Homo sapiens: one gene and its partner. The protein of the gene in region 1 interacts with the protein of each later gene in a pairwise test. Each region holds a gene or a part of one and is shown on either strand. Other genes may lie near its edges. The genes, in order: FUNDC1 and SLC25A46.

Region 1 (16,381 bases):
AAATTAGAATTACTTTAAACTTTTAACAGCAACACTGGAAGTCAGAAGACAATGGAGCAATACCTAAACACAGCTATTAATAAATTATCAAACAAATGTGAGGATAAAATGAAGAAATTTTCAGACATGCAAAGTCTCAAAAACTATAGTTCCCATTCTCATTTTCTACGAAAGCTATTGGAGGATGTGTCCACCAAAACAAGAGAATACATCAAGACATAGGATAGGCCAGGTGCAGTGGCTTACACCTGTAATCCCAACACTTTGGGAGGCCAAGGCGGGTGGAATGCTTGAGCCCAGGAGTTCGAGACCAGCCTGGGCAACATAGCAAGACCTCCCTATTATACAAAAATACAAAAATTAGCGGGCATGTGGCACACGCCTGTAATCCCAGCTACTTGGGAGGCTGAGGCAGGAGGATCCCTTGAGCCCAGGAGGCAGAGTTTGTAGTGAGTGAGATTGTACCACTGCACTCTAGCCTGGGCAACAGAGCAAGACTGTCTCAAAAAACAAACAAACAAACAAAAGACATAACATACAAGAAACAACCCAAAACAAAAAGGGAATATCCAGAAGGTATTGAAGAGAGATCCCAGGGTGAGAGCCGTATACCAGGCCTAGAAAGCAAACAGGACAGATGACTCTGGGACCAAGTTTGCCCAGACGGTTAAACTGATGAACTATTTGATACATACGACAATGAAAGGTGATTTACACAACTAGTAGTTGTCTAAAGAAATAATACTGGGCCAGGTGCGGTGGCTCACACCTGTAATCCCAGAACTTTGGGAGGCCGAGGCGGGCAGATCATGAGGTCAGGAGATCGAGATCATCCTGGCTAACAGAGCAAAACCCTGTCTCTACCAAAAAAATACAAAAAAGTTAGCCGGGCTTGGTGGCGGGCGCCTGTTGTCCCAGCTACTTGAGAGGCCGAGGCAGGAGAGTGGCGTGACCCTGGGAGGCGGAGCTTGCAGTGAGCTGAGATCGCACCACTGCACTCCAGCCTGGGTGACAGAGCAAGACTCTGTCTCAAAAAAAAAAAAAAAAAAAAAAAGAAAGAATCCTGGCTGGGCGCGGTGGCTCACGCCTGTAATCCCAGCACTTTGGGAGGCCAAGGCGGGTGGATCGCCTGAGGTCAGGAGTTCGAGACCAGCCTGGCCAACATGGTGAAACCCCATCTCTACTAAAAATACAAAAATTAGCCAGGCATGGTGGCAGGTGCCTGTAATCCCAGCTACTTCGGAGGCTGAGGAAAGAGAATCGCTTGAACCCAGGAGGCGGAGGTTGCAGTGAGCCGAGATTGTGCCATTGCACTCCAACCTAGGCAACATGAGCAAAACTCTTGTCTAAAAAAAAAAAAAAAGAAGAAGAAAAGAAATAATCCCGGCCGCCCGTGGTGGCTCACGCCTGTAATCCTGTAATCCCAGCACTTTGGGAGGCCGAGGCGGGTGGATCAATAGGTCAAGAGTTCTAGACCAGCCTGGCCAAGATGGTGAAACCCCATCTCTACTAAAAATACAAAAATTAGCGGGGTGCTGTGGCAGGCAGCTGTAGTCTATAATCCCAGCTACTTGGGAGGCTGAGGCAGGAAAATCACTTGAATCCGGGAGGTGGAAGTTGCAGTGAGCCAAGATTGCGCCACTGCACTCTAGCCTGGGCGACAGAGCGAGACTCTGTCTCGAAAAAAAAAAAAAAAAAATCCCAAACTTCCTAGTAGAAATAATGGCCAAAACCTTCCCAAACATGATTAAAGACATAAATTCACAGGCTCAAGAAGTTCAGTGAACTCCAAGTAATCAATCTCAGTGAACTCCATATAATGAATGATCTAACACAATTATGAAAAAAGGGAAGTAACTACACTCAGACGATTGAGGGAGAGGGAAGAAAGCATTCAGGTATGTGAGATTTGGGGAAGTATAGGGAAAACAAAACAGGTCAATAAATGACAGCTAAATTTTCCCATTCCATAATGGGAAGCCAATAGTTCACACCTAAAACTGAAAGATCAAGAAATGTCCAATTAACTTGTTTAGGGAAAAAGAGATTACTACCTTAAGAATCAGTTAAGAGTGCAAACTGGATGTCTCAAGGGATGGAAAAATGGGGGTAGTGAGAGAGGTGGAGGATTACTCTAATCTGTAACAAGCCTTGCACAAGTACTTGGCCCTTTGAATTATAAGGATGTATAACTCCAAAAAATTAAAACGAAGAGACTGTGTACTTTAAGATGGCAGTGTAATAAATATCTATTGGAAAACACTTGATATTGTTACTAGAAAAGCTTTAAGTTCTAAATAAACTAATATTTACCTTTAAATATAAGAAAGGTCATAAAAATATGAAAGTGGGCCTAAAGAATATTAGGCAATTAGCCTAAAAGCCATTTGTTACTTTATTTCCCCTTTCACTTTCCTTCTACTGAGTTTTCAAGGTTAGTCGTATTTGTGGGAAAAACTGGTTTGATGCAGATAGGTCCTATGTTGCTCTGCCTTAAAAACTTCAAAGACTACGTGTACTAAATGCGGAAAAGTGGGAGGTGGCAATGACAAAATGTGGATTTGAATGGTGCATATTGAGTGAACTGAAATGGACTTCTGAAAAACTGACATGCAGAGTGGATTAAAATATACACTTCTCTCCATTCTGTGAACATTTTAGGAAACTCTGCTTCAGTCCAGTACCCTTTTACACTAACAGAAATGACAACTGAGTCTTCAAAATAGCTATGGAATAAAATATGCTCTTGATTCCATATAAAACCAAGTCAAAATCAGCTTAAGTAAAATTATCATCTGTACTAATGCTGGCATATTCATCCAAAGAACTAAATTTAGGTATTAATCATTTTTTTTACCTCTTACCACAAGTAATAAGCAATTATTCGTAATAATGTCACCAAAAGAAAGAAAACATATATATTTTTAAAAGGCTGTTTAGTGAACAACTCAAAATCTGTGCTTCATACATACAAATCTAGTCCCCTTGTACTACAACTACACTAGTTATTACATGATCGATGGCTTAGGTGCTGAATTCAGATTCTGGTGGCTATGAACATCAATCATTTTTAAAATCTAGTACAAGTGACAGTTCTCTGTATCTTTAAAAGTGCTGCTCACATTCATTCGTAGAGATTTTCAATTTTTGGATTTACTATATTTGATCTTCAAGGAATGATATTTTTGAAAAAATACATGCCAAACAGACATGAATGCCAGATGATGCCCTGATAAACATCCTCTAATGGCAAAGCATTTTTAGATCTTATACTTACAAGAATATGAACAAAACTAAAACTTCAAATCTATCTGCCTCAGATATAAGATTATGGATTTTTGTTTTGTTTTGTTTTGTTTGGAGACAGAGTTTTGCTCTTGTTGCCCAGGCGGGAGTGCAATGGCACGATCTCGGCTCACTGCAACCTCCGCTTCCTGGGTTCAAGCAATTCTCCTGTCTCAGCCTCCCAAGTAGCTGGGACTACTACAGGCGTGCACCACCATGGCAGCTAATTTTTGTATTTTCAGTAGAGACGGGATTTCACCATGTTGGCCAGGCTGGTCTTGAACATCTGACCTCAAGGGATCTGCCTGCCTCTGCCTCCCAAAGTGCTGGGATTACAGGCGTGAGCCAATGCGCTCGGTAATGGCTGTCTTTTTAATAGCTGGGATCAAACTATGCTTAATAACTCAGAAGTATTTAAATTGTTATCTTTCAAGACAAAAGTCAGCTTCCAAAACTCATTGTAGCTCTTCCATAAACTGATGCCTAAAAGAAAAATTCCACCTTCTATGAAAGCAAAGGCAAGTGCTTAAAGCTCTGACATACCTGAAGAAGAAGAAAGCCACCACCTACTGCAGTTGCTGCAAGTTTTCCAACTTTCTGGAACAGAAATCCTGCACACCTTTAATCAAATAACAAAAGATGAAAACAATCAATTATGTACTAAACCCTCTCCCTCTTCTACTTTTCATTGCTTTCCTAATAAAATCTTATGTCTTTGCATTTCTTTTGATCACATCCCTTACCTGCTCAGAAACCTTCTCAGAAACCCCTCAGTTATACAGGCTAGTCAAAAATGCACAATCTAAAATGTCTGAAATTTGCTTCAAAATAAGGGACGGAGAGAAGAGGAGGAGAATTTATAGAAAAAAAAGAGCAGCTACTAAAATAACGACAAGTACTCAGGGGTTCATTATATTCCTCCTACATTTGTATAAGCTGAAACCTCCCGTAATAAAAGTGATGTTTTGCTTAATACAGTCAAGATGGTCCATACACCTGGTTGACCCCCACCTTCGGCTCCAACCCCATTAACCTCCAAATAGGTCATCACCTTTGCTCAAGCTATTAATCTCCCTGCTTCTAGGGGTTTCTTCCTAGCTCTACCTATCTAAAGCTTTCCTACCATTCCTACCCTTTCAGGTCCAGCTGTTGTTCCACTCAATAACTATACTTCAGCCCACATTTCTAAAGGCCTCCTTATCTATATCTACCTATTTTTATATTAAATGTTTTTTGTGTCTCATCTACCCTGTGTCAGCTCATACTTCTTTTGTCATTAATTCGCTCCTTCAGTGAGCTCACATTCCCTTCAGCATTCCAGATCCACACTGTGCAAATGAATCCTATATTTCTAACTCTAGCCTTCTGCACTGGGTTGAATGGTGTCCCCCTCAAAATTCATATCCTTCCCAAAACCTCTAAATGTGACCTTATTTGAAAACAGAGTCACTGCAGATGTAATAAGTTCAGATGAGATCATACTGGACAGGGTGGGCCTTTAATCCGATAAGGACGCACACAGAGGGAAGACGACATGTGAGGACAACAGAGGCAGAGACTGGAGTAATACGTCTACAAGCCAAGGAATGACAAGGATTGCTGGCAACCACCAGAAGCTAGCAGAGAAACATAAAACAGATTTCTCCCTCTGAGCCTCCAAGAAGGAACAAACCCTGTTGACATCCTGATTTCAGACTTCTAGCCTCCAGAACTGTGAGAGAATAAATTTCTGTTATTTAATTTAATTAATTAATTTATTTTTTAGATGGAGCTCGCTCTGTCACCCAGGTTGGAATGCACTGGTGCCATCTCAGCCCACTGCAACCTCCGCCTCCCGGGTTCAAGCAATTCTCCTGCCTCAGCCTCCTGAATAGCTGGGATTACAGATGCCCGCCACCACACCCAGCTAATTGTTGTATTTTTAGTAGAGACGGGGTTTCACAATGTTGGCCAGGCTAGTCTTGAACTCCTGACCTCTGGTGATCCACCCGCCTCGGCCTCCCAAAGTGCTGGGATTACCAGTGTAAGCCACCGCACCTGGCCTCCACAGTTCTATATATTTTATCTCCAAAACATTATTTGACTGTCTTCTCCTTTCCACTCTCAAGGTCATCATTACCTTGCTTCCAGAACACTTTAAGGGCCCTCTAACTGGTCTCAACACCTCCCATCTCTCCTAGCAAGGACCCATCCTAATAGTTTTAATTTTTTGTCATGATCAAAAGCCTACAGCTACCTACAGCAAAATAAAATCTCCTCAGCCTCCTATACATGTCTTGAATTGGTCTAAATTGCTAACTTGTTAGGTTAGTGCCTATTAACTGTTCCTCCTTAATATACACCATAATATCACATCAGTTTTACATCCTAAGAAAATTGCAAAAATTTACTACACTGAATATAGTCATTGCAACAAATCGCCTGTATAATTATTAGAGTTGTATTATACAGCTCCTGGACCAACACCTGGCTGTAATCCAAATGTGTGTGTTGTGTGTGTGTGTGTGTGTGTGTGTGTGTATGTATATATACATATATGTCAGCAACAAAGGCTCAGAAAAGGGAACAGAAAAGGCAGGCAGCAGCCACAATGTCCCTTGGACTGTGTTCCACAAGCATGTGTATCCATTGCTTGATGGCATCAGTCACTAAAATGAACCTATCTCCTGCTGCTCTGTCTCTAGGCTTTCCGAGCAAACTTCTGCCAATGATGGGGCTTCATCTACAAGGAGTCTGGTCTCCAAGGAGAAACAATGAAATGACTTGATAATTCTATTCTCAATTATTTTTGAGTCTGTTTTAAGACTGGGCTTTAGGCCCTGACTGACATTAACCAATCACCCATGGAACCAAATTGTGAGCTTATTTAAGCAGAGCCATACCCTGAATTACAGGGCTAGAGGAACTATCAGCCTGTGGAGAATTATCTGAATGACCAGGCCCTGACAGGCATCTCTCTTCTAATTGCAGGCTTTTTTCCTGCAGCAGCACTAGTAAGTACATATCATGAATAAATGCCGCACCTCTGCACCACAGAATCTTCACAATGAGTACTTCTATCATAAAATGGCATTTGCAAAAAAAAAGGCATAGAAGAGTGGGTCATTATTCCAAGGTGCATGTAAAACACAAATCAAAAAACTCATCGTTATACTTATCAAGTGGAAACAGGTAAATATTTCAATTAAATCTATGTAAGATGAATTTAAATAAGAATCTAAGAAAAAACGCTTATGCACAAGTTAAGTACCCTCACTAACTCCAAAATTTCTCTACAGTCACGAACATTTTCAAAACAGTCAAATTTGTTTCTGCCCCTTGTTATCTGGCTAGTTTTTTTATTATAAGAACAGAATTAGATCCACAGTAGCCATTGTGTTATCACGTGGTCTGAAATGTTAACTGGTCAGGCTGATGGTTATTAACTACTTCTTAATGGACTCCACAATATTATCAAGTAAGCAATCAGACCTTTAAACACAGAATTAACGTTCTACAGCTCTTTTTCAAAGAGTTATCATAATCTGAACGAGCCCACAAAAAACAGAATCATCTGTATCATCACCAATAATTCATACTGAGCATTTTACACTGCTCTGTACAGGGCTGACAATACTAGAGGCCAGTTCTACCGTGGGAGTTTCTTAGGTTTTTTCAGCAGTTAGCACTGAATGAAATGTAAAAATTTACATATAATTAACTCATATATTTCTTCCTATCTACTATCACTGAATCAGATCCACGACATTTGCTGAACATGAGAATGGGGAAATTATATAAAGAATCAAAAGAAGGATGAGGAGGGAGAAGAGGAACAGTGGTGGGCATGGGGGAGGGGATCGCCAAAACTCAACAGGGAGCCTGGGAATGTAGATTACATCAATTTTAACTCAGAGAAAAGCCTCTTCTGGAATTAACAGTGTAGACCTACTGCCTGTGCACGGTGATTCTTGCCCATGTATGAAAGGACAGCAGTGTCAGGCCCCCAAATGAAATTTAATGAAAAAGACGTTGTTCTCACCAGCCAGTAACGCCACCCATTACAATCTGGGTAGCTACTGAGTATTTTTCTACCATAGGTCCCGAACTGTGGCCAAACACTCGATTCCACCACTGGTGTCTTCTTGCATACTCAGTTAAATCCAACACTTCATAAGAGTCGTCATCACTTTCATAGTCTTCAAAATAGCAAAATGCAAAAAATAAATGTAGAGTCAATCAAAAGTCAGAAATGTTCTATACATCTTTTTAAAAATCTGTTACAACTCATTAGTTCTGGCCTACAGCTAAAAATGCCCACATAGAAACTACTGACTTTATTTAACTCAATTCTTGAGACCAGGGCCTCAAGAGTAAAGGACCCTGCAACAATGACCCCCATCTGCTTTCCCAAAGGCCCGGGGACCAGCCTGGGGTCACGAAGCCAGGGCCAACTCAGAATGACACAGTAGTGAGGGGTCACCCCCACCTCCAAACCTTAGTAGGGTCAAGGTCAGAGCAGGGTCCATTTTCATCAGTGGGAGGAATGGGGGTGGGGAGGGGTCCTCCTGAGAGAACTAGTCTGGAGCTCAGCGAAATCACTTGAGTCCAGACGTTTAAAAAAAGAAAATAATACATTTGAAGATGGGAGATGAAGGGCCGGAGGTGAAGGTAAGGCAGGAGGCAGGTAGGGCTGTGCTGGGGGTGGGGGTGGCTCTCCGCTTGAGTTCCGCAGAGAGGGGAGGAAAAAGTCTAGCTCGGAGGGGGTGCTCGAAGGGGCTGCCTTAAAAAAAAAATGGAGCTCGAAGAATCCTAGGGCAGGGGAAGGAAGAGGTGCCATAGGAGCAAGGTCGAGAGCTGTGAGCCGCGTCCCAGATACCACTTCGGGCCCTGGCCGCTCACCTTGGGGAGGGGGGTTCCGGGTCGCCATGATACCGCCAGCGGCCAATTCTGGAGTGGTCCCCACCCGCCCTCCTCTCCCTGGCACTTTAAGGGCCGCTCTAGGCCAGGATGGAAGTCTATGGTCTCTTTTTTCCTCCTTCTCCTACTCCAGGCGCGTAGTCCTGTCTCCGCCCCCTTCTCTCAGCGCAGGACCTTCTGCCTTCTGCGCAGGCGCGAAACTCCGGAATGTGGGGAGGGCCGGGCGGATCATAGCCCCGCGAGAGCGTAGGGGACTTGTAGTCCGTTGCCTTCCGCAACTAGGAAGGGGGAGGGACCGCCCCTCCTAGAATTTCCGTAACTTGAATTTGATTATTTTGTTTTAAAAGAGCCTTAAGGGCTGAAGGAATGGGGTGAAGGGCGCCACATGGTGGTACAAAGGGAGAACCAGCTGGGTATTGACAAAGACTCTCTCCTTGACCAAACTTTAGTCAGGAGGCTCCTCTGAGCTGTTTTTGACTGGGTCTCCTCCTTGGGTCGTCTTTGACCTGCCTAGTCCATTTGTGGTAAGAATGCAGTTAAGTCAGTTTAGTAAGAACTCCCCCACCCTTAATATCGAATCACCCTCAATATCCGATCGAATTCCTCAACCCCACTCTTGATATCTGATCACTCTGCCACCAGCAAAAATCCTGTTAAATTGGCTTTAGCAAGAATACCCCTACCCTTCATGTCTACTCTTGGTAATCTTCCACCCATTGATCCATTCACTCTGATCATTTACTATAAATTCCCTGCTGTATTCAGAGTTGAGACCCATCACTCACCCCTATTGCCATAGTCTTTGTTTTATGAGAAAAGGTATTGCTCTGTCACCAGGCTGGAGTGCAGTGGCGCTATCATGGCTCACTGCAGCCTCAAACTCCTGGGCCCAAGAGATCGGCCCACCTCAGCCTCCAGAGTACCCAGGACTCCAGGCGTGCATCACCACTCCCGGCTAATTTATTTTTATTTTTTGTGGAGAGTAGGTCTCCCTGTGTTGCCCAGGCTGCTCTTAAACTTCTGGGCTCAAGCAGTCTTCCTGCCTCTGCCTCCCAAAGTGCTGGGATTACAGATGTGAGCCACCATGCCAGGCTGTATTGCAATAGTTGTGATACCTATTGCAGTAGTCATGAACAAAGTCTTCCTTACCATTTTAAGAAGTGTCCCATAATTTTTTTGTCAGGCCCATCACTTGCATACTGTCAGAATAATTTTTTAACAGTATTTTGAACATTACCAGAATTCAAATGCTTGAGGAAAAAGGCTTGTAAAAGATAAGAGAAACCCTGTTTCAAGCCATACTTTTCTAAGGGCGCAAGCGCTCACAAAGGGACCACAAGTTTTCTAATGCCCTGCTGCTAGAAGTTGGAATCTGTTTACCTGCTCTCTCTCTTGAGTTCCTGCCAGGAATCCAAAGGAGGTAAAGAAAGGCCTAGAAACCTCGTAATTCCTGACCTGGCAAGAGGACATAATTTTTTAGTGTCATTCTTTTGTTTGTTTGTTTGAGATGGAATCTCGCTCTGTTGCCCAGGCTGGAGTGCAATGGCACAATCTCGGCTCACTGCAACCTCCACCTCCCGAATTCAAGTGATTCTCCTGCCTCAGCCTCCCAACATCCCAAGGAGCTGGGATTACAGGCACGTGCCACCACGCCCGGCTAATTTTTGTATTTTTAGTAGAGAGGGGGTTTCACCATGTTGCCCAGGCTGGTCTCGAACTCCTGATCTCAGTGATCCACCCACCTGGGCCTCCCAAAGTGCTGGGATCACAGGGGTGAGCCACCGTACCCGGCCAGCATCATTCTTATTATTTAAATCTGACAGAGGAACAAGGTCAAGGTCTTCACCCAGAAACCCCATGGGATTCTATGAATACAAAGCCATATTGATCACCAAGCAGCTAACCCAAGTCCACATAAACCAACCCAGAAACTTGTCTTGAACTTGCGTTGCACCCGCATCTGCTGTACAATTAAACAAAAGTCCTCTCAGTATTCATTTTAATGGAAAAACAAGGAATTCTGGCATAAATTGCATTACTTTAAAAATTGGCTTGCATAGATGCACTTGGCTTTTCAAATCCTGGCACTTTATTATTTCTTTTTACAATATGCCCATTTATTAATATTCTTATTTATTAATTACTTTTAATAGCAAACCACAATTACTTTTGCACCAACTTAACACATAGCTTGCAAGTTTATGTTTTGTCATTTGTTGACTGGGAAAGGAATTTTCCTAAGCATGTAAAATCCCTATAAATTGAATGGCTTACCTTCATTATCATTTGTATTATGATACTAATTTCTAGTAACTATTGAGTAACTTGTCTCCCTTTATTTCTTACCATATCTCTGCAACTAATTAGCCTGTTAGCTTCAATTATGTTTTATTTTAATTTAAAACTGATTGGAAAATCAAATTCTCTTTTGCTACGACCCAGTATAATTTCACTGTGTAGAGATAGCAAAAGCATGTGGACAATCCTGGCAATCACTTTATTTAAATTAATGTTCATGGAGGTGGTTTGCAAGGTTGTGTTTGAAATGCTTGTTCTCCGGTGCCATAAAGAAATAGCACTTGAACATAAATTTAATTTATTTAGTAAGGCCATTTTTACTTTTTGCAGAAAGGGAACACTCGCTAGCAGTTTTGCCACAAGAGTACACTGAACAAAGGACACAGGGTCATTTATAACCTGACGCGTCTACCTTACTGCTGTGTCCGGTTTCCACTGGCTGGAACGGGACCTCACATTCTGTATTTGTCTTGATTGGCTAGCAACTTGGAAGTTTTTAAAAGAGGCAAAGGTAGAGGAGAACAAAGGAAAGAGGAAGTAACTTGTGGAATGCTGAGAAAGATAAAAACACTTTTAAATAAGGAAGAGGAACAAGCTATGACCTAATGCTTGCTTGGACCAGTATAAGCATGCCAGGGCAAATATTGAGGCTAAATTGTAGGAGATAAGAAGATAAAATACATTGATTCCTTTATTATGGCTAGCAGATATTTAAGAATGTTAGCACAGGTCTTTGAATAAATTTTGCTTTTAAAAGAAGTTACCATTTATTCCTAATTAGACCGGGAGGAACGTCTTTGAAGAGGAACCTCTATTTTACTTTTTACAGTTGAGGGAAGAGGATGGAGGAGAGGACCACAAACTGTCTAAACACATAGCCAAAAAAGAACACAATTAAGATGAGAGATTGGGCTGGGCACCGTGGCTCACTCCTGTAATCCCAGCACTTTGGGAGGCCGAGGCAGGTGGATCACCTGAGGCCGGGAGTTTGAGACCGGCCTGACCAACTTGGAGAAACCCCGTCTCTACTAAAAATACAAAAAATTAGCTGGGTGTGGTGGTGGGCACCTATAATCCCAACTACTCGGGAGGCTGAAGCAGGAGAATCACTTGAACCCGGGAGGCGGAGGTTGCAGTGAGCCGAGATCACACCATTGCACTCCAGCCTGGGTGACAAGAGCAAAACTCCATCTTGAAAATAATAATAATAATAATAAATGAGAGCTGGGCTTGGTGACTCATGCCTGTAATCCCAGCACTTTGGGAGGCCGAGGCGGGAGGACCACTTGATGTCAGGAGTTCGAGACCAGCCTGGCCAACATGGTGAAACCCCGTCTCTACTAAAAAAAATACAAAAATTAGCCGGGTATGGTGGCGCACGCCTGTAGCCCCAGCTACTCAGGAGGCTGAGACAGGAGAATTGCTTGAACTCAGGAGGCGAAGGCTGCAGTGAGCCGAAATCACGCCACTGCATTCCAGCCTGGGTGAGACAGAGCAAGACTCCATCTCAATAATAATAATAATAATAATAAATGAGAGACTGAAGTATCTCAAAAGTGAGGATATTGGAAACTTTGGACATTAATAGGGTGGTCTAATGAATACAGACACACTGAAATAATGTGTTCATTCTTAGGCAATTAAGTTCATTGTGTTGCTGATCCCAAGAAACAACATTTTATCCAGACATAGTGACTAATGACTATATAAAATTTTTAAAACATTAGTGTAACCAAACCTATACTCACCCTGTGCCTCTTCAAACTCACACCTAAATTGAGAATGGGACCAAGGAATATGCCTTATTCAAGATTTTAAATCAGACCTTGAAAGTGATTAAAGTGATTATTTCAGGACGTTGGTGAAAAATTGTTAAATTGACTATATAGTTCTATAAGATTTACTCTCAATTCGCTAAATAGAAATCATAGGTCTATTTTGAAAGTTAAGTGAGGACTTACTGCATATTTATGTTTGTCAACGAAAAGAGTCAAACTCTGTAAAATATTTGAAGAGCTTTATTCTTAGCCAAATATAAGTGACCATGGCCTATGACACAGCCCTCGGGAGGTCCTGAGAACATGGGCCCCAGGTGGTCAGGATGCAGCTTGGTTTTATACATTTTAGAGAGGCATGAGACATCAATCAAATACATTTAAGAAATACACTGGAGGCCCGGCATGGTGACTCAGGCCTGTAATCCCAGCACTTTGGGAGGCCAACATGGTGAAACCTCGTCTCTACTAAAAATACAAAACTTAGCTAACCGTGGTGGCACATGCCTGTGGTCCCAGCTACTTGGGAGGCTGAGGCAGGAGAATCACTTGAACCTGGGAGGTGGAGGTTGCAGCAAGCTGAGATTGTGCCACTGCACTCCAGCCTGGGTGACAGAGAGAGACTCCATCTCAAAAAAAAAAAAGAAAAAAAGAAATACATTGGTTTGGTCCAGAAAGGCAGGACAACTCAAAACGGGGGCTTCCAGGCTGTAGGTGAACTTAAACATTTTCTGATTGAGAATTGGTTGAGTTTATCTAAAGACCTGGGATTCATAGAAAGGGAATGTTCAGGTTAAGATAAAGACTGTGGAGACCAAAGTTCTTTTGAAGTCTTATGAAGTCTTATAGTGGCTGCCCTTAGAAACAATAGATGACAAATGTTTCCTATTCAGATTTTAGTTAATTTCTTTAGGATTAGGAGGGTTTGGAAGAAAAATATCTAGCTATGTTAATATAGATTCTTTACAGATGCAAATTTTCCCCCACAAAGAACAGCTTTGTAGGCCATTTCAAAATATGGCAAAGAAACATTTTGGGGTAAAACATTTGATTTTCTTCTTTGTCTTGTAATGTTAGGCCAGAGTCAGTTTGGAAAGTAAGTCACAATGTATAGGGTTAAATAAAACCCATCTGATGAGAATTTATGATTTGTAGGGCATGACTCCCCAGACCCCTTAGATAGCAATTTGGGCAAGATAAAAAAATCAGAATTTAATTCTCATGTGTGACACGGATTTTTTAAAGTATGAATCAGCAGCTGGGTGTGGTGGCTCAGGCCTGTAATCCCACTTTGGGAGGCTGAGACAGGAGGATCACTTAAGCCCAGGACTTTGAGACCAGCCTGGGCAACATAGGGAGACCCCCGTTTCTACAAAACAAAAAAAAAAAAAATTGGCTGGGCACAGTGGCTCATGCCTGTACTGCCAGCACTTTGGGAGGCCGAGGTGGGCAGATAACCTGAGATCAGGAGTTCGAAATGGGCCTGGCCAACGTGGTGAAACCCGGTCTCTACTAAAAATTAAAAAATTAGACAGACACGGTGGCACACACCTGTAGTCACAGCTACTCAGGAGGCTGAGGCTGGATAATCTCTTGAGCCCAGGAGGGCAGAGGTTGCAGTGAGCCGAGATCATGCCACTGCATTCCAGCCTGGGAGACAGAGCGAGACTCCATCTCAAAAATAAAATATAAAAAATTAGCCAGACATGGTGTCGCACACTTGTGGTCCCAGCTACTCGGGAAGCTGAGGTGGGAGGATTGCTTAAACCTAGGAGGTTGACGCTACAGAGAGACCCTGTCTCAAAAAAAAAAAAAAAAAAAAAAAAGATGTGAATCAAGGAAATAACCATTAAGGCAAATATGATTTAAGAAAATCCTGGCACTTTAGATACAAGGGTTGGTTCCCCAAAGTTCCTCAGCCTGTAGCCCTCAACATGCAATTCTAAGACTGGCTAGAGAAGTTAATGTTTATTTAAAAGACAGTTACTTTGTGTATGACTCCACTTTTCAAAAACAAAACGACATTACGGGACATAGCTTCAAGTCTCCTCTCTGAAATATTTTTCCAAAAATTACAGATTTGAATTCGTACACTCCTTCTTTCCCGTTGCCAACCCATTCTTAATGAGGTGCTAACAAATAGAGAAGTAGCAAATGATGGGCCACTGAAAGAAGAGAAAGGGAAAAAAAAACAAGAGAAAGGAAAACAATAAATTGGAAGAGTAAAATGGAGGGTTGACAGGGCCAATGACATCCAAATAACACTGACATATTGAAACCGTCTTTGCAAAATTATGAGGAGACAGTGAAAGATATCTAACTTAACCGACTCCATCTTGCTTCTAACCTCCAAGCTGTCCTTGTTCATTCCTGGGCATAGGCTGAATTAACTTTGGGAGAAACTAAGTTTATAGTTTAAAGACCACAGCCAGGTGTGGTGGCTCACGCCTGTAATCCCAGCACTTTGGAGGCCAAGGCAGGCGGATCATTTGAGGTCAAGAGTTTGAGACCAGCCTGGCCAACATGGCGAAACCCTGTCTCTACTAAAAATTAAAAATATATATATATATTAGCCAGGCATGTTGGTGCACGCCTGTAATCCCAGCTACTTGGGAGGCTGAGGCAGGAGAATCGCCTGAAACTGGCAGGTGGAGGTTGCAGTCAGCCAAGATCACGCCACTGCAGTCCAGCCTGGGTGACAGAGTGAGACTCCACCTCAAAAAAAACAAAACAAAACAAAACAAAACAAAAAACAGATGATAACAGCCCTTTCCCAAAGCAGACCTCCTTTTTGCCTGGGGACTAGATTGCCTTTGTAGACAAACATTAGCCACAAGATTAGAAATTATGGTTTAGCAGTCATGCAGCTGGAGGCTACTACATTCTGACCCTCCATAAACTACTCCTAAAATCAGTGCTAGAGACATTTTGCAGACCCTGCACTTGATGGATCAGCTGGCACCACCCAGATTGATACACTGGCTCATTTGATCTTGTGGCCCCCACCCATGAACTGATTCAGTGCAAGAAGACAACTTTGACTCCTTATGATTTAATCTCTGACCAATCAGCACTCCTGGCTCACTGGCATCCCCCCTACCCACCAAGTTATCCTTAAAAACTCTGCTTCCCAGGCCGGACACGGTGGCTCACACCTGCAATCCCAACACTTTGGGAGGCCGAGGTGGGTGGATCACCTGAGGTCAGGAGTTCAAGACCAGCCTGGCCATCATGGTGAAACCCCATCTCTACTAAAAATACAGAATTAGCCAGGTGTCGTGGTGTGCACCTGTAATCCCAGCTACTTGGGAGGTTGAGGCAGGAGAATCCCTTGAACCCGGGAGGCGGAGGTTGCAGTGAGCCGAGATTGCGCCATTGCACTACAGCCTGGGCAAAAAGAGCAAAACTCCTCTAAAAAGAAAAAACAACAACAACAAAAAACTCTGCTCCCTGAATGCTCAGGGAGACTGATTTGAGTAATAATAAAACTCCAGTCTCCCACACAGCTGGCTCTGCATGAATTACTCTTTCTCTACTGCAGTTCCCTGTCTTGATAAATTTGCTCTGTGTAGGCAGCGGGCAAGGTGAACCCCTTGGGTGGTTACAATATTTCTAGCAATATCTGCCAACTACAGAAAGAAGTCACTTACCTATCAAGTATATGGTAGTTAGAATCAAATGGCTATGGAGAAATGAGGAAGAGAATTTTTTAAGAAATATTCCTCTTAAAATGCTGTTAAATAAAATGTATATGCCGGTGCAGTGGCTCACGCCTGCAATCCTAGCACTTTGGGAGGCCAGGGTGGAGGGATTGCTTGAGTTGAGGAATTCTAAACCAGCCTGGGCAATACAGTGAGACCCCATTTCTACAAAAAATAAAAATATTAGGCGGGCATGGTGGCACGTGCCTGTAGTCCCAGCTACACGAGGAGGCTGAGGTGGAGGATCACTTGAGCCCAGGAGGTTGAGGCTGCAGTGATATCTGATTGTGCCACTGCACTTTAGCCTGGGTGACAGAGAGAGAACTTGTCTTAAAAAATAATAATAAATAAATATAAATGAAAATAGAATAAAATTTATAGGAGGCCTTTGGTTTGGACTGAACTCCCGCACTAGGACCAACA
Region 2 (11,474 bases), on another chromosome or scaffold:
CTTCTAGTCAGATGGGAAATAACTGGTTGATTTTAAGCAGAAGACGGACATGACATAATTTGTATTTTGAAAGAATACTGGCTGTTGTGCAAAGGAGAACAAGATCAGTTGAGAAACCAGTTCAAAAGTTACTGGAATGATTCCAGTAACAAAGAGATGATGGTGGCTTGGACTAGAAGGTGGCAACAGAAGTAAAGTGGTTCAATTGTGCTTTTATCCTAAAATCAAAGTCTATGGGAATTACTGGTGAATTGCATTTGGGGTATGCAAGAGAAGGGTCAAGGATAACCCCAAGGTTGCTGTCCAGAGGAACTGGGGGAATAGCACTGCCTTTTATTGAGATGAAAAATTGCCAGAGTAGCAATTTGGTGAAGATCAAGAGTTCAGAAATGTTAAGTAAATTAACTCCAAATGGAGTTCACAATAGAAATTACAGAAAAAGGTACACAATGGACCTACAGATGGTTTCCAACTTACGATGTCTCAACCTAAGATTTTTCGAATTTATGACAGGTTTATTGGGATGTAATCCCATCGTGAGTGGAGGAGCACTGTATTATAAATGTGGGAGTCTTTAGTAAATAGATGATATTTAAAACTATGAGATGACAGTGAGCTTGCCTAGCCTTCTAATCCATCTTCCTACTTCTGACCCTGACATCCTTCCCACTCCAGTTTATTTTTAATGCAACAGTCAAAGAGATCCTAATAAAGATGTAAGTCAGATCACACCACCGCTCTGCTCAAACCTATCAAAGACTTTCCATCCTTCTCAAACAAAAGCCCAATTATTACAATGATTTACAATGTCCTATGTAATCTGGTCCCCTCTTACCACTCAGGCCTCATCTCCTGTATTCCCCCCTTGCTTACTTAGCACCAACCATAACAGCTTCCTTTCTACTTCTTAAGCATGTGTGATACAACACACATGACACAGTCCCACTTGAGAGTTTTTGCACCTGCTTTCCCTCTAAATACAATTCAACATTTGCTTATTTTGTGCTTAGTTAGCACCAGCCACATCGGCATCCTTCCTACTTCTCAAGCATGTATGATACAACACACATGACACAGTCCCATGTAAGGGCATTTGCACTTGCCTTCCCTCTACTTAGAATATTCTCCCAAATATGCATGTTGATCTTTACACAAATGTCACCTTCTCAGTGAGACCTTTACTTATCTTCTTAAAAAAATATTAACCGCCCCTCCCTACCCATTACACATCCTATTTGCCTTCCTTGCTTTATTTTTGCTTTCTTTAGCAGTTAATCGCCATGAAATATACCTTTTATTTAGTTGTTTATGTCTACTTTCCCCATAAGAATATAAGTGCTATGAGAACAGAGCATTTTGGTTTTGTTTGCTGTTGTATCCCCAGGGTCTATAACAGTACCTGATATAGGCAAGTACTCAATAAACAATTGATACATTTTTTTTAAAAGTTTAGCAGTTAAGATAATCTGCAAATCTGAAAGGTAAAGTGATGTAATTAAAACCTTGGTTTAAAACTATAATAAGAAGTCTGAAGTTGATTTTAGGGAATATGAGTCAATATGAATCCTTAATCAGTAAAAGGATATATATAAGTATTGCAACTTGAAAACAATCTTGTATGAGTATTGACTTTTAAAATGTGGAGACTAGTACAAGGATTTCTTTCTTTCTTTCTTTTTTATTTTTTTTAAGACAGAGTCTTACTCTGTCACCGAGGCTGGAGTACAGTGGCGTGATCTCAGCTCACTGCAACCTCTGCCTCCCGGGTTCAAGCGATTCTTCCATCTCAGCCTCCTGAATAGCTGGGACAACAGGCGCCCACTACCACACCCGGCTAATTTTTGTATTTTTAGTAGAGATGGGATTTCACTGTTGGCCAGGCTGGTCTCGAACTCCTGACCTCATGATCCGCCCACCTAGGCCTCAAGGATTCTTAATGAAGAAATAGATAACTACAAAGTTCATGATGACTGGGTAATTATGAAGGATGAAAGAAATGTAAAAATAAAAAACTTTCCTAAAACAAAAACTAAAGTTTTGAATCTTTAGTGTGAAGATAACAATAGTATCACTAATATATTGCCAAGGAGAAGAGGTTCTAAAGGAAGCTAATTTTTAGAGGGACAGATGAGATTGTTTTTAAAAGTTGAGTCTGAAGATTTAACTCACATGAGATTAGAGCTAATGATTCCTGTGAATAAATTAGCTCTTTCAGAATAATGAGTATAGGATAAAAAACAGAGGGTCAAGGATTGGGCCTTAAGGTATAAGACAAGAGATGGCAAAGGCATTATTGAAAAAAGATGTTCAAGAGAGAGAAATCTAAAGAAAAAAGAGTTCTAGAAAAGCAGACAAAAGAGATCAAAAGGAGTTAGCAAGTGGAACTTGAAGCAGGAAACAAGGAGTAAATACTGGGTTAAAAAAAACACATACACAGAAAAAACCCTATCACATAGTGAGCCGGGCACTTATATAAATAACTCATTCAATGTTACACGTCAGTTATTAAAATACTATTCACAATTTATGGATAAGAAAATTATAAAGGTTAAGAAATCTGTCTAAAGTCCCAGGTCTAATTTAAGCAGAGAAATGTGATAATGGGTCTGTCTCAAGCTAAAAATTGTTTTCCCCAATAAATCATTCTGCTTAGTTGTTTTTCCTTAAATAATTACCTTCCTGACATTTTTCCCTTACCTTTAAAATGAGGCTATCTCATACAAGTGACAACTCTGTAAATTCTATAGCACCATACAAAAATTCATCATTTATTTAACACAATGCCAAATGCAAGGGGAAGGGAAAGTATGATTTGGGTCGCAAGACACTAACTTCAGTTAACTGAAGTTAGTTCTAACAGAAATAATAATAATAATAATCATAAATCAAAGATGAATGATACAGCCAGAAAAGAAACAAGGTAGAAAAGAGTAATTAGAAGAGCAAAGGCTGATCCAGTGCGAGTTTTTACAGAGAGGGCACTCACATATACTAGAGAAAAGAATATGCTAGAGGATCTGATGTGGAAATAGAAGACAGGTGTACAAATAGTTGGATTTTGTATACAGGTGAAGTAAAAACTACCTTCATCTTACAGTTTTAAGTGTAGGAAGGAGGGTAAGACATTTAATTAAATGTACTTGAAGCGCCACCATGTGGTTAGGAATAGTAACACAAGCAAACAGAATTTCAAGTGCTAGCAGAAAATTGCTTCAGCTTTGTAGTATTTACCACACCCAATAGTATCAAATGTCACTTAAAGGCATGTTTTAAAAGAATCCTGTCAGTAAACTACCTGTGGGGACAACCTGCTTCCTGTTCGGATGATTATCCATCATGTTTATTCTCAGGTAATTATTAATTTACTGTCCAATGATAAGCCATAACCATCTGAGTTGTATGTAAGGGCCTTAAAAAGTTTATAGATTCTTTGTTTTCAGAGCAAGTTATAGGCTGTGTTCTGAGATGTCTAAATGAAGAGTATAGTTGCCTATGGAAAGGACAAAAATAATTAAAACTAGAAGTGTGACTTAAGATACCAATGGAAATATACAGACAAGCAACGTGCGATATAACTGTGATATTTATAAAATAAATATTTTAAGACATAGTCTTAAAATTTTCTGCTGAAATGTTAGATATCTACAATATACTGAATAGTCAAAAAACTATTCTTAAATAAAAAAAAAATGACAGTAAAAAAAAGCTCACCTGCACTGTTTCAATCAGACTTGCTGAATAAAAAGGCATTGCCACCACGTAAGTTAGGCTATAGAAATTAAAACAAATTTATCAGTATACTGAAACAAGATGCTTATACTAAATTTTTTAATATCTGCTTTAATATGTCAACATAATTTATAGTCAAGCTAGAATAATCTTTTTAAGGTTTTCAACTATTAATACCTACAGCCTAAAAATATTAACTTCAGAAATCTGTAACGTAGGATGCTTTATTCAACAGAGATGAAAAAATCAAATGATAAAACAAGGACAGCCTGCAAAGAAAATAGATTGGACATCTACCTACACATAGCTAATGCAGCCTATAAATCTAAAACTTAAAATTGAGGATGAGGGATCCATTCCATAGTTTGCCTTTTTAGTGATATTTGAGCAAGTAACTTTTCTGTTACTATCCTCTTATATCAATTCCCAGATTTCCCATCCAGCAGAGTTAGGCCAGTCTTCAATGGTGAGTGAAGTCCCTTTTATTATTAAAAAAAAAAAAAAACATTATACAGCTTTGCAAAGTTGTTTCCTATCACCAATATTTAGACATAGTAATATTACAACTTTGCAAGCCTGCAAAATATAGTTATTCAAAATAATATCAAGGTGGGACTTACCTAACCCTTATGGGCCAGGTCCTGGCAAGTAGTGGTTTTCAAGGTGAATGGAACATCACTAAGTAATAATGTGCTGGAATGTCCCACTGAGGGAGCCAGCAAGCTGGGGGATTTCCAATTCACAATCTTCAAAAAAAAAAATTAAAAAGTGAAGAATAAAATTCTAATCTACAAAAATGGTTACCGTTGTAAAATCACTAAGTGCCTTCAGGACTACATTTCAATGTCACTAAGGTTTTTTGGGTTTGCTTATCACCATACAAATACATTTGCATCTCTGATTAACAATAAAATAGTTATACTTTCTTTGAAAATCTGGGTTAAATAAATTGAAGACCTATGCTAACTTCCTAAGAAAACATACACAAAATTAGTCTGTGATTCTAGCCTTTCAAATTAGGAATTTATTTTAAAGATAATATATATTTCAGGATTTATTCCTAAACTCTGTGTTACTTTGTCCTTTGAAGTTATAGTCCCACCAACATTTCACTGCTCTAATTTCCTTCTCTACAGTTATTTAATAAGATTTGTTTCCAGTTCTAATACTATAAAAATTAGTGAAAATGCCCAATAAAAATGCCATTTTTTGATACTTACGATTTCAGTAGAAGGTGTTCTCCTATTTGTTTAGGACTCCATTTATGTAAAACCTCCCTAAAACATAAAAATAAACTTAAATAAAACAAAAGCCATGTTATTTAAAACATCTGGAATTAGCCCAATTTTCAAAACAGTAATCAACTTCTAATTTTTTTCAATCTGTAGGAGAAATATATTCTAATGGTGAACATTTTCTTTTCTAGAACACAGTGTAAACAACTGTGATGGTTTGAGAGAAAAAAATACAAGGTGTTTTCATACGTGCTGATAGAAGGGGCTGGCAGAGAAGCAAGAGGCACAACTGATTATGAAAGTAAACATGAGAAATTAAAGGAAGAAAATTAAGATGATTGGTTAAAAGAAAGAGAATAGATATGGAAACAAAGAACAGGATTAAAAAAGGCTTTACAAAGTATATAAGAATGACAATTTTTTAAAAAAGTTAAGTAACTCTAATGCAGGCTGACACATTACATTTATGTAGTACCTAATTTCTGAATTATCTTTACTTAGTACAATTACATAATTTTGTGACCATTATATTCTATTATCTTTGTGAGCACCTACTAAATGCCATGACTATGCAAAGTGCTTTGCATGAACTATTTCTAATCTTCATAATAACCCTATTTTCTCCATTTCATAGATGAGGAGATAGGATCAGAGGGGATTAATAACTCATCCAAAGCCAAGTAACCAGTTAGTGTGGAACTCTGTTCTAAACCCCGGTACTCTCTGCCTGTACTGCCTCTCATCTTATTTGATACAAAGAAGAACCTTGTGAGATAAGCAGAGCAGATATTGTCACACTTGTCTTACTGATGAGAAAAATCAGGGTCAAAAAGATCACAGGAAAATGTTCAAAGGAAACAGGCAAAAATGCCAGGTCTGGAACCAAGGTGTAGGATTTTGTGCATTCTGTCTGCTAGTTTGGTTACCTTTGGAAAACAAGAAAAGAAAGAAAAAAAAGGAAGGAAGAAAAAAAAAAGAAAGAAAGAAGGAAGGGAGGGAGGGAGGCAAGCTGAAATGAAATAGAACCAAAGGTGAAAAAAGGGAGTAAGTTCTATCAAGAGAAAAGTCCAAAAAGAGTCAAGATTATAGAGGGTAAAAAAAAAAGAAAAGAAAAAAAAAGAAAGTAAATAAGAAGAAAAAAATGAAAAGGCAGGGGAGATAGAAGAAAAATGAAAAGAAAAAGAGAAAAAAAAAACAGAAAGGGAAGTGCAAAATAAAGATAAGACTTGCTACCAACAGTTTCTCTGATGGAATGGGTACTCATTCCATCATGGCTATGGCTACAGCAGGAATCTAGATAAACATTTTCTATTTCACATGACTGAATTTGAAAAACAACAGCATATACATACATCAGAGACTTTCAGACAATAGAGCAACTACCCCCGATTTCTAAGACCTTAGAGCACCTTCTGGGCCGAACTCTGATTAAATTACTATTAGGATATTTATTTGGCCTGAACAACACAATGTAGCTGAAATCATATTATTCAATGATTAAGTCGAAAAATATAAAAAATAGATTAGGCCTCCCATCTTACTGAAAGTTACTTTATGATTATAAAACAAAATACGTTACATGCTTTGTAAATCATCTTGGCACAGCTAATACTCATGGCCTCACAAAGTATTACCACAGTTTATGACGACACCAATTTTAAGTATGAAACTGTGGTAAACACTTAGGACTGGGTAGCCTCCCCTTTAAATACAATGTCAATTCTGAGTTACCTCCCCTTTGATGACTACTGCCAATTCTTAAGATCATTAAGATAAAAGGAGACTTAAAACCAAGTATTTAAAAAAATGCTTTTGGGACTCTTCTTTGTATCTGTTCTCTACTACTTTATAAAATGGGTAAAATTTACTGTTACAGCTCTAGAAATTTAAATAAGCATACTTAAAAGCTTCAGTCACTAAACCTTTTTATAATTCATTATCAAATACCAAACATGTAAATATATCTAAATTATCTATTTCCAAGCAAAAAATGCCCTCCCTAATGAACGAAAAAATTAATAAAATTTATTCGAGTACCTTGCTTTTCTCAAAACAGTCTAGTTTTTCATTTAACAAATCAAAACACATACTCCTATGCATAATCAACACAAAAAAGGCAATAAAATTCTAAAATAACTCTGTCTCAGCAGTCTTTAATTTTCAAATGGTCAAATAGCTATCCTAATTAAAAAAAAAAAAAAAAAACTTACCCCAACCTACTCTAAACCCCTCATCTTCCAGTTACCTCTCTTCATCAATCCTAGTCAGAGCCAACCATCTAAACTTTCTGTTTCCACGTCTGTACTTTCCCACTCACCTCTGAACCCACTTCAAATTGGTTTTGAACAAAAACAGCTCTTACCAAAGTCTCCAATAATCTGCATGTCATTAAATCTGATGGACATTTTTAAGTCTCTACCTTATTTGACATTTCAGCAGCCATCAGAGCCTCTTCTCTCCTTGAAGCACTCTTTGCCCCTGTGCTCCACTAGCCCATTCTGTTGGTTTTTATCCTGCCTTCTGGTCTCTCCTGACTCCTTTTCAAGACCACCTTTCTTAACCCAGCCACCCCTTGGTTGGAGTTCCTAAGGTTCAGACTCTATTCTTCTACCATAGTGTATCCTTCTTCCCTAGCGACGCTCATATCTAGGGTTAGAGCTTCAAAATCTCCCAAATTAATTTACCTTCAGTTAAGAATTCTTTATATGCCAGCCCCATATCATGTGCCTACAGACAACTCCATCTGGATATGATAAAAGATCTGAAAATGCACTTGTACTAAAGTCCAACTTAAAATCTTTCTTTTCTACTTAAACTCTTTCAGTGTTCCCTACTCAGGAACTATTAATCAGAAAGGAAATCTATTGAATTTGAGGAAGATTTCATTGTGTTTAAAATAACGTGTGTTTAAAATAAGCAAATTCGGAGGGAACCGTTGGAGGAAAACTACAAGATGTTTACAGTGGTATAACCACAGATGTGTGATGAGTCAAAACTAAGTTGGAGTTGAACCAAATGGGTTTTGTGAGAGACTGAACCACACAGGTAGCCTTGGTTACAGGAACTCCTACCTCGCGTTAACAGTCTGAAAAAAGCCACATGTAAATTAAGTAAAGGGTACTGTGGGGGTAGAACGACACATGGTTTAACTCACTGCAACTGGGAGAGAGAACAGGGAAGGGTTTAGCAGTATCTACTGCTAAAGAGATCACACATGACGATCCTGGCTAATATATAATTTGTTAAAAAGTAATACTACTGAGAAATTATAAATTTGCTGACTTAATGAACACTAGAGATCTGCTGTTTTTCTCTTTGATTTGATCATAAACTGTATTTAAAAACCCCTAAATATTGGCAAATCTGTACTATCTCCCCTGTTCTACCTAGTAAATGTTACGCAATTAAAAAACCCCAGGCTAGGAGACCTCAGAGCTCATCCTCCTCATGTAGTAGCTTCTGTGAACTGCTGTTAATGTTTTGTGACCTTGTTTGCTCCTTCTTCCCATTAATAGGATACAGAAACAAACTCTGCCTTCTTCCCATTAATAGGAAAGGTCAAATCTGCCCAAAGAAGAATAAATAATTTTTTAAAAGATATTCACACTATACTTCAAAAAAACAGCTTCATTTGACAACTAGTTACACAAGCCCAAATACAAGAAGTCATTCTTCATACTGCCTTCTCTTTGATCTACCATTCCTAAAGCATCACCAAATTCCCTCAGTTTGACCTAAGTATATTTCAAAACTGTCCACTTACCTCTATCTCAAAAGATACCACCCTGATCTTAGCCACTATCTTTTCTTACCTTTATTATTGTAATAGAATACTAAGATGTCTCCTTTTATTCACTTTGGTCCTCATACAACCTTTTCATCTACAGTTACAATGACCCTTTGAAAACAAATCTGATGTCACTGACCTTACTGAACCTCTTCAATATTCTTAAAATGGCCTACAGGGCCACACATGTTCTGGCTCCCACCTGCTCTGTACCCTTACCCTTGGCCAGAGCTCCAGCCATGTGAGGCTTCTCTCAGTTACACCTGAATTCTCTAGGCTCCCCACTGCAACAGCATTTTTGTACAAACTGGTATGTACCTCCTAATTACCACTCTGATCTACCTTAAGTGTCATGTTACTAGGGACACTGTTTCTAGCCCTTTAATACTTTCATGGAACTATATTCTTTTGCTTCAGAAAACAAATTTCAATTTGCAATTATTCATTAATGGAATTATTGTTCTTAGTGAATGTACTTTTATTAGATTCTGAGCTTCCTGGCAACAGTTACCTTTTGTTTATTTTCCTCACTGTAAACCCGGTTTTTAGCACAGAACCTGGCACATAGTAAGTACTCAGGAAATGTTAGCCAAGTAAATGAATGAATTAATGAGTGGGCCTTATCACCAAAATTATCCAAGTAGAACAATGCAATAGAGGTTACTATTTTGTCTTCTTTGGAAAGATTCAAAATGATGAAAATATATTCCCACTCAGTTGACATGTCTGTCTACTGAGTAAGAAAGTTAGATGATAAAATTTTATAAAGTCCTATGCCTTCCCATTCCTATTTTTCTTTTTTCTTCCCTGTAGCCTGAAATTAATGTTATTCCTTCATCTCTGCTTTAGAGAGGCAACATTACTTGCATAAGGTCCCAGAAATAAAAAGTGGAATAGCCAGGACCTGAACCAATAGTGTTCTGGTTGCAAATATAGTCAACCCTCCATATCCATGGGTTCCACATACATGGATTCAGGCAACTACGGATTTACAATATTTATTTAAAAAAGGGATAGTTGCATCTGTACTGAATGTGTACAGAGTTTTTTTCTTTCTTGTCATTATTCCCTAAACAATATAGAATAACAACTATTTACATAGCATTTACATTGTATTTGGTATTACAAGGAATCAAGAAATGATTTAAAGTATACAGGAGGTTATGTACAGGTTGTATGCAAATACAACACCATTTTATAAAAGGGACTTAAGCATCTCTGGATTTTGGTATCCACTGGGGGTCCTGGAATCAATCCCCTACAGATATGAGGAACAACTGCATTGAATTTTTTTCACTCTACCAAATGGAATTTCCTGCATTTTGTTATTTTTTTACAGAATTGTTTGTTAAAGAATTTCAAGAATATTTGACTATAAGTACTAACTTGGGATCTTATCTAGTGATATAAAAGCAATAAAGTGAATAGTTAGCCAAACAACGAAATACAGATTTTTAAAGAATAAAACAAGAAACTCTGAGCTGCCCAAATGTTGCTGACCTTTCTAATCTTTGTTTTGTTTCAAACGTTTTAGCAAAGTTTATTTAAGGCACTTCAAGACTACGAGGTCCTTCAAAAGCAATCACATTGGAAAAAAGCTTACTATCAGTTTCTCTTGCTTTCATTTCCTTCCCTGTAAGGACTAAATCCCAACATTGGGCATATGCGTTACACTAGTAGCTATGCCTTCAACTATCTCACTTCTTTAACAATGCAAAAAATTCACCTTGCCAGAGAATAAATTTGGATTAACAAACCATTCCAAAGCCTTTAACATTATCGATAGGATGATATACAAAAATATAGTGCTGATATAGAAAATCAGAGTAATGCCAAATAGCACCTTAAAAATTTCTAATTTCCAATATTACCTATTAACATTCCTTTCATATACTCTTTGTAAGATTCCTTTGTTACCCATCATTGTGACTGTCCCAAATGTGTATCATTCCTCTCATGCTTTTCTACTACAACCCCAATGCTTATCATTTTTTCACCAAATAACCCTGTATCCTGCTTCACAGAGAAAAGAGAGACCCAAAAGCAAATTTCCCTAATTTCTCTACCCTCTCTCTCAAATGTATCTACACTTCTAATTCTCCCATTTTTGGTTTCTAGAACATGATTGTCCTACATCTTATGCTATTTCCAATTTGTCTGAGGCCCTCTCTAATTTCTCTCATTATCTCCCCCAACTACCCCCCTTCCCACCGCTCCCACACACACACGGCACACATGTATGCCTAGGATTCTGTCCTTGGTCCATTTTATTCATTTAATCTATGCTTTCTCCTTAGGTGATTTCATCTATCCTAAGCTTCAGCTGCTACTTTTATGCCACAATACCCAAAGCTCTCCCTGTGCTTCAATTTTCTATTTTTTTTTTTTTACTCTGATCCATGGTTCCAACCAAATATGAGACATGTCCCTCTCCCTCAATGTCTTGCAAGAATCTCAAACTTCATTTATTGAAAGATAAATTCTTTATCTTCTTCCCTACTCCAACTTTTTCTTCTTCTTGAATTCTCCATCTTGGTTAACATTTTCCAATCTAGAAATCTCAGTCACTACTGACAACTCATTCTCTCCTATCTCCAATTACCAAGCTAACATAATGACCATCGACTATACTTCAGAAATGTCTAGCCAGCTCATCCCTTTCTGTTCTGTTCCACAGTTCAGAACCTTCTCAGCCTCGCCTAGATTATTACAATAGATCTCCA

Evidence for each region.
Region 2: the proteins of FUNDC1 (region 1) and SLC25A46 interact in binary tests that used the Homo sapiens proteins (3 or more experiments, as listed by UniProt).

What each region holds. Positions count from the first base shown.
Region 1 is NC_000023.11:44,534,639-44,551,019, forward strand, and holds the start of FUNDC1 (FUN14 domain-containing protein 1), read right to left. Parts: upstream 8,222-16,381; 5' UTR 8,195-8,221; coding exon 8,167-8,194; intron 7,464-8,166; coding exon 7,307-7,463; intron 3,905-7,306; coding exon 3,829-3,904; intron 1-3,828. UniProt on the Homo sapiens protein: Integral mitochondrial outer-membrane protein that mediates the formation of mitochondria-associated endoplasmic reticulum membranes (MAMs).
Region 2 is NC_000005.10:110,748,997-110,760,470, reverse strand, and holds part of SLC25A46 (mitochondrial outer membrane protein SLC25A46), read right to left. Parts: intron 5,007-11,474; coding exon 4,950-5,006; intron 4,476-4,949; exon of another isoform or gene 4,350-4,475; intron 3,770-4,349; coding exon 3,712-3,769; intron 1-3,711. UniProt on the Homo sapiens protein: Transmembrane protein of the mitochondrial outer membrane that controls mitochondrial organization.